2 separate regions of the Homo sapiens genome follow, and region 1 is reported to be linked to region 2. Evidence: microRNA targets listed by miRTarBase, many of them from high-throughput screens and not tested one by one. Region 2 holds a microRNA gene; the other region holds the end of a gene's coding sequence.

Region 1 (5,067 bases), not on the chromosome of region 2:
AATGCTCTAAGGGCTTCCTCACCTTTCCGTCATCCCACCTGGGAACCAGCCCTGGGTGGAAGAAACGATGAAGAAGCAGGAGAAAAGGGAGAAATAAGTGAGTTGTGTTTGTGAGCAAAGGCCAATAATTGCTTCAGGTGCCACAGAGCATCTAAACCAGACTCTTGAGAATTTGTGACTGTAAATATGAACGTTCAAATTTCATTTTAAAAGTATCCAAGTTTTCCAATAGAGACAGAATCAGATAGTGGTTGCAAGAGGCGAAGTGGGGGAAGTCACCTGGCTGCAAACACAAGGAACTCAGGAACTTTCTGAGTGGGTACGATGGAAATGTCCTATATCATGATTGTGATGGGTAATAAAAGTATTCATTTGTCAAAATGCATCAATACTCTTAATTGAGGTAAATTTTACTGTAGTTAAAGTATTTCTTAATAAGCCTACCTTTATGGCCAGCCACAGTGGCTCACACCTGTAATCCCAGAACTTTGGGAGGCCAAGGCGGGTTGATCACCTGAGGTCAGGAGTTCAAGACCAGCCTGGCCAACATGGGGAAACCCTGTCTCTACCAAAAATACAGAATTAGCCGGGCGTGGTGGCATGCACTTGTAATCCCAGCTACTTGGGAGGCTGAGGCAGGACAATCACTTGAACCCGGGAGGCGAAGGGTGCAGTGAGCCACCATCATGCCATCACATCCCAGCCTGGGAAAAAAGAGCGAAACTCCATCTCAAAAAAAAAAACCCTACCTTTAAAACATGCATGTAAACTTTCAATTTACAAAGCCACTCACCCTGGGAAAATATAAAGCAAAAATATTAAGCCTAAAGTCCAGTACAATTCCTCAATCACCCTAGAAGCCAGCTATACTCTAGTTCAACTACTTACAGAAGGGCCACATAATAGCCAAAGTAAGAGAAACCTGGAGCCCCCATTCGCCCCTGCTCCCCTCAGCAACACAACGGGCCCAACAATCAGGAGACAGGACGAGGGAGACGTACTGTGAAAATCTTTCTTTTATTACTGTCTCATGTGGCAAAATAACATTTTATACAAATAAGTCACCTAGTTTACTTTGGACACAAAGACAATAAAAACTGGAATGTGATTTTGGGGGAAGCGGGAAGGAGGAGGAAGGACAGATCAGGTCATTGATGTTTCTTATATTCTGTAAAAAATAGATTTACAGGAAAAAAAATAGACTTTCACAACTTCAATGACTTTACACGGTCCTTTGTAAAACCAGTGGTAAATCCACCTCCACCAAATCCTTCTTGAGGCTGATATGTTCTGTGACATGGAATGTGAGTAACACAATGGTTCAATGATTAGGCTCCTACACCAGGTACAGCAGCACCTGATGCCACAGGAATCCTCGTGCACTGGGGTGAGGAGTCAGTCCTGTGAATTTCAGGACACACTGTCCTCATCCCCAGACCTCACTGACATCATAGTGACACTGGCCATCAGAAGAAAGTGACTTTACAGAGGGGAAAAGAGTATCCTGGAAGCGTACCGGTGGGGCAGGACACACTAAGGCAGGACTCACCCAGTTTGTACATTAGACACAGCCTATTAAATCCATTCCAGAAATGAGTTCCACTTCAACTGAAAAAATAAACTGAAGATTGCCCAATCACTGCCATTTCACAAATTTCCAGTTTATGGTCAGCCCCAAAATCACATTCTTCCACCCTATGTATTGGAAATCAAATGGCCCAAAGACTGAGGTGTCTTCAGGAAGCACATGCTTGAAAAATGTTTTCTCTGCAAAACAGTATTGAGTAATACATAAGGAGACATAGCCTACTTTAGCCCAAAACTTCTTTCACTTGTTATGTCCTTTTACCTCTTAAAACATAGAATGAAATAAACTCGGATCTTCTTTGGAGAAGCTAGAAGGGCATTTTGGCCCAAAGGCTGTACAGGAAAAGAGAGGCTCTCTCCAGGAGACTGCAAGGCAAAGGAACAGAAGCAGGAGGGGCAGGCCCTCTGGCACCAGGTGGGCCTGCTACTCTGATGAAATGTGCTCCCAGCTCTTGACAAAGGGCAGGGTCTCCTATGCAGGTAGTTTTTTTGCCGCCTCCCATTGTATCACCCACAAGGTAACTGCTATCAACAGTTCAGATTCCTTAATAACATGGCAGCCTGAATGGTTCTGTTACTTTCAGAGAAAGTATGCCTTGCAATTCTCTCCCCAACTCAGGTACAAACGCTTGAATTTCAAACTCATACTGGTTTACACCCCAGAGTGGAATGCTTCTCAAGATTTCCTGAGCAGCTAGACACAGGAACCCACAGCCCCAGATACAGAACACCAGACTTTCAGAAGCAGCAAAGCCCTGTCCTGCTGGGCATGGACCAAGCACTATCCGCAAATGGTCTCCAGTGAGACTAAGGCAAGCTAACAAGGAAGAGGATACAGCACAACTCAAGCCAGATTGCCCACCTCCTCCTTCCTCCACATCCTCTTTCTAGCAAAAGCGAACACTGCAGATAAGAGATAGCCCACTAATGTAGCAGATACAGTGTGCCCAGGGGCATGTTTCCAAGACACACTCTACTAAGCACAGCTCTGGGCAGCTCCAGAACCACATCCCAGATAATACTCAAATATCAAATAGTAGAAACTGTCCCACCTGGGCCTCTGTCAAAGAGAGAAGGGATTGTTGTTACGCTTGACAGGAACATGCAAATCCCATTTGAGGAGCCACAATGAGAAACAGAAGGTGAGGAGACAGTGCTAACAGCCCTGGCATCTTTCTGCCAGTGAGGAGGTGGGAACAATGGCAATGCAGCTTTCCCCTGCAGCATAAGGGACAGAGCCACACGTAAGGCACCTGGATTTACAGTGGACGCCAGTTCTGAGAGTGGCCGGTCTGGTGATAAGGAACCCACTCCACAGGAGGAATGGTCTCTCCCCTCTCTCGGGGCTGAATCCAAGGCCAGCACACAGGGGTAAGCTAGGACCTTCTCAGTGAGAAAGCTGCCAGCATGTGGCATTGCCAAGACTCTGGCCTGGGACAAAGCACTGGGCCAAGGTTCGGGGCCACTCGCCCTAAAGCCCACACAGGGAGCAGCACTGGTGGTGGATGGACAGGAATTTCTGTGGCCACACACTGTCTCTTCCATCCCTGGCCCCCATACGGCCTTTCTCCCAAGCACATCAGGACACTCTCCTGTCACAGGTACTGTGACACCTCACAGTCACTTACCAGATACCTGGGCCTTTCCTAGTGACATCCTTCTACTGATGCTAACTGGACCCTGGCCACATCAATCGTCTCATCAGAGGGTTTGTGGAGTCTGTCCACTAAGGGTCTGAGGACAAAAGCAGCCCACAGATGTGCAAGTGAACTTTTTTGAGAACACATCACTCTGACAGGCCACATCAGCCTATTTTGCCCTTTCTGAACACCTAAAACAATTCTAACTAGCAGTCTGAAGGCTCAGACTGCATTACGTAACTCTGATCCACCAGGAAAGTTCCAGAAACTACTTCAGTAGAAAGGTAGATAGGAAAACCCTCCTAAACAAGAAATGTACAAAGAGCTTCGGAGGCAAATCCCCATCAAAAGCCAATCCTCCAGGCTGTGCAGTGCAGAGAAAAGTCAAATCTCTCCTTTAGAAAGCTGCTGCTGATTCGTAAGCATATCCTCCCAACATAAGCCAGATTAGCCCCTGGAAGCTGATACTATCAGAAGTCTAACCACATATCACATATGCTGGGAACACCACTGTCATTTTATAAAACCTCCCCGAAAGAAGTCTGGAAATAAAAAAACAAAATACAAGACCTGCTCTGGCCTCAAGAGATACTACTGTTCCATGAGCAGAGCTGACTCATTCTATTTCATGAGACTCAGAAGGGAGGAGCCAGGAGATGTGGAGCAAGCTTGTCTGTCCTCCAAAATGGGAACAGAAGGCACTGCCAGGCTGAAAACTTGGTCTATTCCCAGGAGGGCTGGCTGAGACCCTGGAAGTCAGACAGAGCAGCAGCCTCTCCACAAAGCAGACCCTTCAGCTTGGCAGCATCACCCATTCCTTGGTGCCTCCACTCTTGGCACCTCCCTCCCTCCCCACCCTTTCAAGTGTCTTCCAGTTGGTTTAAGACTTCACACAGACCGAGGGCAGACTGCGCTGATGGCAATGCCGGAGGTGAGAGGAGGAGCTACCTGGAAGAGGCCTACCTTTCAGCTTCCCACAGCACCCAGGAACCTTAAGAGCTGCTGACCTGCTGGTGGGCCTGGCCAGAGCCTTCTCACCAGGCACAGCTATGCCTGGTCGTCAAGACAACCAACAGGCAGCCAGAACTACGGAAAATAAACTTTTTTATCTGGATTCCAGGACCCTTATCCTAACCTTTTACTTTACTATAGTACCTCTGCAACCTACGGGGCAGGAAAAAAAGGGAAGAAAAAATACTGGGGAAGAAAACACAGCACTGTTTGGCAGCTCCTTTGGCGCGCAGGAAACTGCCACCCCAGCCTTGGCTTCCTGGGGCCAGGTTCCAGATGTGTGTTGACAAACTGCAGCTTCGATCATCTCCGTGTGCCAGGATCTTGTGGCCGCGGCAAAGCACCTCCCCTATCTACTCTTGCAGCACTTACTGGCCTCCATTATAGGCATAATCAGCCTTGTTGTGCATTATCAGCTTGTTGTCAACAAAGTAGAAGCTGTCAGAGCGGGTCTCGTAAGGATTTTCAATCATTAGACGAACTGCAAGTCAGGCAAAGGGGGAAGAAAAAAGCAAAGAATTATGTTTGAGTCTGCCCCACAGGGTAGGTGGGAGAAAACTTTGCATCCCCTCCAAAATAAGCCAGCGCTTCAGAGTATACTCTGCCAGAATAACGATGAGGTCAGAACAGAGGGAGGCAGCCCTTGACAGCTGGGGAGACCACAGAGGCCCCCCAGCTGAACATGATCTCCATTTCAACATAAGGATGCAATCAACTCTCCACCATGGCCTCCTCTGTCATCTCCAGCCTGGATTCTTCAGCCAAGATACCAGGGAAATGTGCTCACCCCTCTTCCCAACATGGACCCCACCAACCTATTTACTCAGTG
Region 2 (5,073 bases):
TGCCACTCCAGGGGACACGGGCTGACCAAGACCCACAAGGCAGGGGTAAGGTGTGCCCAGAGGAATGAGACCTGAGGAAATGTAAAGGGGAGGAGACAATGTGCATGTGTGTGGTTGTGTGTGTGTGGGGGGGGTGATGTGCATGTGTGTATGGCACGTGTGTGCATGTGCTATGTGGTGTATTTTGCATGTGCTATTTGTGTTTATGTGAAGTGTATGTGTGTTGTGTGTGTACCTGTGTGTGTGGTGTGCCTGTGTGGTGTGTGTGTGTGCCTGTGGGGAGCTGTGCCTGTGTATGTGGTGTGTGTGCCTGTGTGTGTGGTGTGTGTGGTGTGTGTGTGTGTGGTGTATGCCTGTGTGTGGAGGTGGTGTTTGTGCATGTGCCTGTGTGGTGTGTGTGCTGGCGTGTGTATGGTATATGTGTGCGTGCCTGTGGGGAATGTGCCTGTGTGTGTGGTGTGTGCTGCATGTGTATAGTGTGCATGCCTGTGTGTGTGGTTTGTGCTGTGTCTGTATAGTGTGTGTGTGGGTGTGGTGTGTGTGCCTGTGTGTATGGGGTGTGTAGTGTGTGTGGGGTGGGGATTGAAGTGCTCTCCTGGGTGACCAGGGCCACTGGGAAGGTTCTCTCTGCCTGGAGCCCAGCGGGCAGGAAGGGCTTTGCAGGAGAGGGAACAGCAGGGCAGAGGCCAGAGGGAGTGGGGAGAGGAAGGGGAAGTGGGAGGGGGCTGGTGTGGCCTGAGCAGAGATGGGGAGGGAAGCCACACGGGGCAGTAACCCAGACGCAGGCTGGGGGCGGTGCAGACCCATGAGAGTGGGTCACACTCCGGCTCCAGGTGTTTCAAAGATGGGGTTGATGGGATTTGCTGAGAAGAGGAGGTCGAAAGTGAGACGAGAGAATTCCAGGAGATGCTCAGCCACAGGCATGACCCCCACAGTGCCGCAGGAGCACACACACACGCGCACACACGTTTACCCACTGACAGCTGTGGCCTGGTGAGACCAGGCTGAGGACAGCTGCCTCAGCGACCCAGGCTCAGATGCCACCAGTGCCCCATGTGGCCTCGGGGAATCTGCTGCTCAGAGCTCCTGTCTGCCCATTTGCACATGGGACCCATGAATGGAGGAGGCACTCTGGCCATGTGGCCAGAGGCCCCGCTCCTGTCCTGCAGATGTCTTGGTGACGAAACCCGATCCATGCATGTGGAGGAAGGTGGGGGCATCCCTGGAGCTGGCCTGTGCCAGGCCAAAGTGCTCCTTTGAGCTGCCCAGGGCTGTCCTAGTGAGTGTCCTCAGGCTCTGGCCACCCAGGAGGGCCAGGGGCGTCTGCATTCGGGAGTGGGTTGGAGAAGGGGACGATGGGAGAGCAGGAAGCTTTTGCAACTGCTCCAGGGCCATTGGGAGGGTGCAATTGGCTGACACCCGGAACTTCATTGATGCTTACCCCACGTGCCCTCTGTGTGGGTCCCGCTCCCAGTGCGGACACCACCTCCTAGCTCTCACTAGCTCATGCAGGCCTCTGGGGCCCTCCTGAATCCACACCTCCCAGGGCTGGGTCCTGGTTGTTCCCCAATGGGGAGCTGTGCCTCTCTATCACCAGCAGGCATGTGATCACACCTCCCAGGAAGCACAGGATCACACCTCCCAGGAAGCACGGGATCACACCTCCCAGGAAGCACGGGATCACACCTCCCAGGAAGCACGGGATCACACCTCCCAGGAAGCACGGGATCACACCTCCCAGGGAGCACGGGATCACACCTCCCAGGGAGCACGGGATCACACCTCCCAGGGAGCATGGGATCACACCTCCCAGGGAGCACGGGATCACACCTCCCAGGGAGCACTGGATCACACCTCCCAGGGAGCACCGGATCACACCTCCCAGGAACCACGATATCACACCTCCCAGGAAGCACAGGATCACACCTCCCAGGAAGCACAGGATCACACCTCCCAGGGAGCACCGGATCACACCTCCCAGGGAGCACCAGATCACACCTCCCAGGAACCACGATATCACACCTCCCAGGAAGCACAGGATCACACCTCCCAGGAAGCACAGGATCACACCTCCCAGGAAGCACAGGATCACACCTCCCAGGAAGCACGGGATCACACCTCCCAGGAACCACAATATCACACCTCCCAGGAACCACGATATCACACCTCCCAGGAACCACGATATCACACCTCCCAGGAACCACGATATCACACCTCCCAGGAAGCACGGGATCAGACCTCCTGGGGAGCACGGGATCACACCTCCCAGGAAGCACAGTATCACACCTCCCAGGAAGCACGGGATCACACCTCCCAGGAACCACGATATCACACCTCCCAGGAAGCACAGGATCACACCTCCCAGGAACCATGATATCACACCTCCCAGGGAGCACAGGATCAGACCCCCCAGGGAGCACAGGATCACACCTCTCAGGAAGAACAGGATCACACCTCCCGGGGAAGACGATAGCACACCTCCCAGCGAGTGTGAGATCACACCTCCCAGTGAGCGTGGGATCACACCTCCCAGGAAGCATGGTATCACACCTCCCAGGAAGCACAGGATCACACCTCCCAGGAAGCACGGGATCACACCTCCCAGGAAGCATGGGATCACACCTCCCAGGGAGCACCAGATCACACCTCCCAGGAACCACGATATCACACCTCCCAGGAACCACGATATCACACCTCCCAGGAACCACGATATCACACCTCCCAGGAACCACGATATCACACCTTCCAGGAAGCACAGGATCACACCTCCCAGGAAGCACGGGATCACACCTCCCAGGAACCACGATATCACACCTCCCAGGAACCACGATATCACACCTCCCAGGAAGCACAGGATCAGACCTCACAGGGAGCACGGGATCACACCTCCCAGGGAGCACGGGATCACACCTCCCAGGGAGCACGGGATCACACCTCCCAGGGAGCACGGGATCACACCTCCCAGGGAGCACGGGATCACACCTCCCAGGAACCACAATATCACACCTCCCAGGAAGCACGGGATCACACCTCCCAGGAACCATGATATCACACCTCCCAGGAAGCACAGGATCAGACCCCCCAGGGAGCACAGGATCACACCGCTCAGGAAGAACAGGATCACACCTCCCAGGGAAGACGATAGCACACCTCCCAGCGAGTGTGAGATCACACCTCCCAGTGAGCGTGGGATCACACCTCCCAGGAAGCATGGTATCACACCTCCCAGGAAGCACAGGATCACACCTCCCAGGAAGCATGGGATCACACCTCCCAGGAAGCACAGGATCACACCTCCCAGGAAGCACGGGATCACACCTCCCAGGAACCACGATATCATACCTCCCAGGAACCATGATATCATACCTCCCAGGAAGCACGGGATCAGACCTCCCAGGGAGCACGGGATCACACCTCCCAGGAACCACGATATCATACCTCCCAGGAACCATGATATCACACCTCCCAGGAGGCATGGGATCAGACCTCCCAGGGAGCACGGGATCACACCTCCCAGGAAAGCACGGGATCAGACCTCCCAGGGAGCACGGGATCACACCTCCCAGCGAGTGTGGGATCACACCTCCCAGGAAGCACAGCATCACACGTCCCAGGAAGCACGATATCACACCTCCCAGGAAGCACAGGATCACACCTTCCAGGAAGCACAGGATCACACCTCCCAGGAACCACGATATCACACCTCCCAGGAAGCACAGGATACACCTCCCAGGGAGCACAGGATCATACCTCCCAGGGAGCACAGGATACACCTCCCAGGGAGCACGGGATCACACCTCCCAGGGAGCACGGGATCACACCTCCCAGGGGAGCCACAGGTTCTTAATGGGACAAGGCCAGCGCTTAGCAGAAGTGTTCCTGGTGTTTCTTGGTGTCTGCCCATCAGTGGCCCCCACCTGGCTGCCTGTTGAAGTCATCCGGGGAGCCCCCTAAAAGTACGCATTCTAGGTCCACCTCTAGGCCTTCTAAGCCAAGCCACCCGCGGGGAGGTGGTGGTAGAACCTGCAGTGTGTGAGGTCCCACACCCCACCCCATAGGGTTCTCTGCTCGGCTACACTTGGAGCTCACTTCACTTCAGCGGCATGGAGACAGTAGCCCCACCCGTCCCCACACACCCGCACTTCTGCAGGAAAGGGCCTTCCGTCAGAGCCCACAGCGGGCTGGGCCTGCAGCTGAATGAAGTCAACTACTTAAACGTCCTGAAGAGGGAAGGAAACCACACTGAATAAAGTTAGAGGTGTGCACATGCAACGTTCTGCATGCTTTAGAGTTACAGGTGTGCACAGGTAGCATTGTGTGTGCTTTGGATGGAGTTGGAGGTGTGCACAGGTAGCATTGTGTGTGCTTTAGATGGAGTTGGAGGTGAGCACAGGTAGCATCGTGTGTGCTTTAGATGGAGCTGGAGGTGTACACAGGTAGCATTGTGTGTGCTTTAGATGGAGTTACAGGTGTGCACAGGTAGCATTATGTGTGCTTTAGATGGAGGTGTGCACAGGTAGCATTGTGTGTACTTTAGATGGAGATGGAGGTGTGCACAGGTAGCATTGTGTGTGCTTTAGATGGAGTTGGAGGTGTGCGCACAAAGCACTGTGTGTGCTTTAAATGGAGTTGGAGGTGTGCACAAAGCATTGTGTGTGCTTTAGATGGAGTTGGAGGTGTGCACAGGTAGCATGGTGTGTGCTTTAGATGGAGTTGGAGGTGTGCGCACAAAGCACTGTGTGTGCTTTAAATGGAGTTGGAGGTGTGCACAGGTAGCATTGTGTGTGCTTTAGATGGAGTTGGAGGTGTGCACAGGCAGCATTGTGTGTGCTTTAGATGGAGTTGGAGGTGTGCACAGGTAGCATTGTGTGTGCTTTAGAAGGAGATGGAGGTGTGCACAGGTAGCATCGTGTGTGCTTTAGATGGAGTTGGAGGTGTGCACAGGCAGCATTGTGTGTGCTTTACATGGAGTTGGAGGTGTGCACAGGTAGCATTGTGTGTGCTTTACATGGAGTTGGAGGTGTGCACAGGTAGCATTGTGTGTGCTTTACATGGAGTTGGAGGTATGCACAG

Evidence for each region. Region 2 holds the annotated microRNA hsa-miR-3689d (GGGAGGUGUGAUCUCACACUCG, at 2,486-2,507, opposite strand). A microRNA usually pairs through its seed, bases 2 to 8, with sites in the 3' UTR of a target mRNA and lowers its output. Matches are read on the target gene's strand: a 7mer-m8 pairs with bases 2 to 8, a 7mer-A1 pairs with bases 2 to 7 and ends in A, and an 8mer does both.
Region 1: the mRNA of UNC119B is a reported target of hsa-miR-3689d. Seed matches in the 3' UTR shown: 7mer-m8 at 4,155-4,161 and 7mer-m8 at 2,774-2,780.

The regions. Positions count from the first base shown.
Region 1 is chr12:120,719,572-120,724,638 of GRCh38, reverse strand. It overlaps UNC119B (unc-119 lipid binding chaperone B), which reads right to left. Exons shown (of 5, transcript NM_001080533.3): 5 at 999-4,719. The coding sequence ends at 4,607. MIR4700 (microRNA 4700) reads right to left here and starts at 1,446; the gene lies at 1,373-1,446.
Region 2 is chr9:134,847,175-134,852,247 of GRCh38, forward strand. MIR3689D1 (microRNA 3689d-1) reads right to left here and starts at 2,508; the gene lies at 2,435-2,508. It overlaps MIR3689C (microRNA 3689c), which reads right to left and starts at 2,195; the gene lies at 2,124-2,195. MIR3689A (microRNA 3689a) reads right to left here and starts at 2,390; the gene lies at 2,313-2,390. It overlaps MIR3689B (microRNA 3689b), which reads right to left and starts at 3,098; the gene lies at 2,951-3,098. It also overlaps MIR3689D2, MIR3689E, MIR3689F and LOC101448202.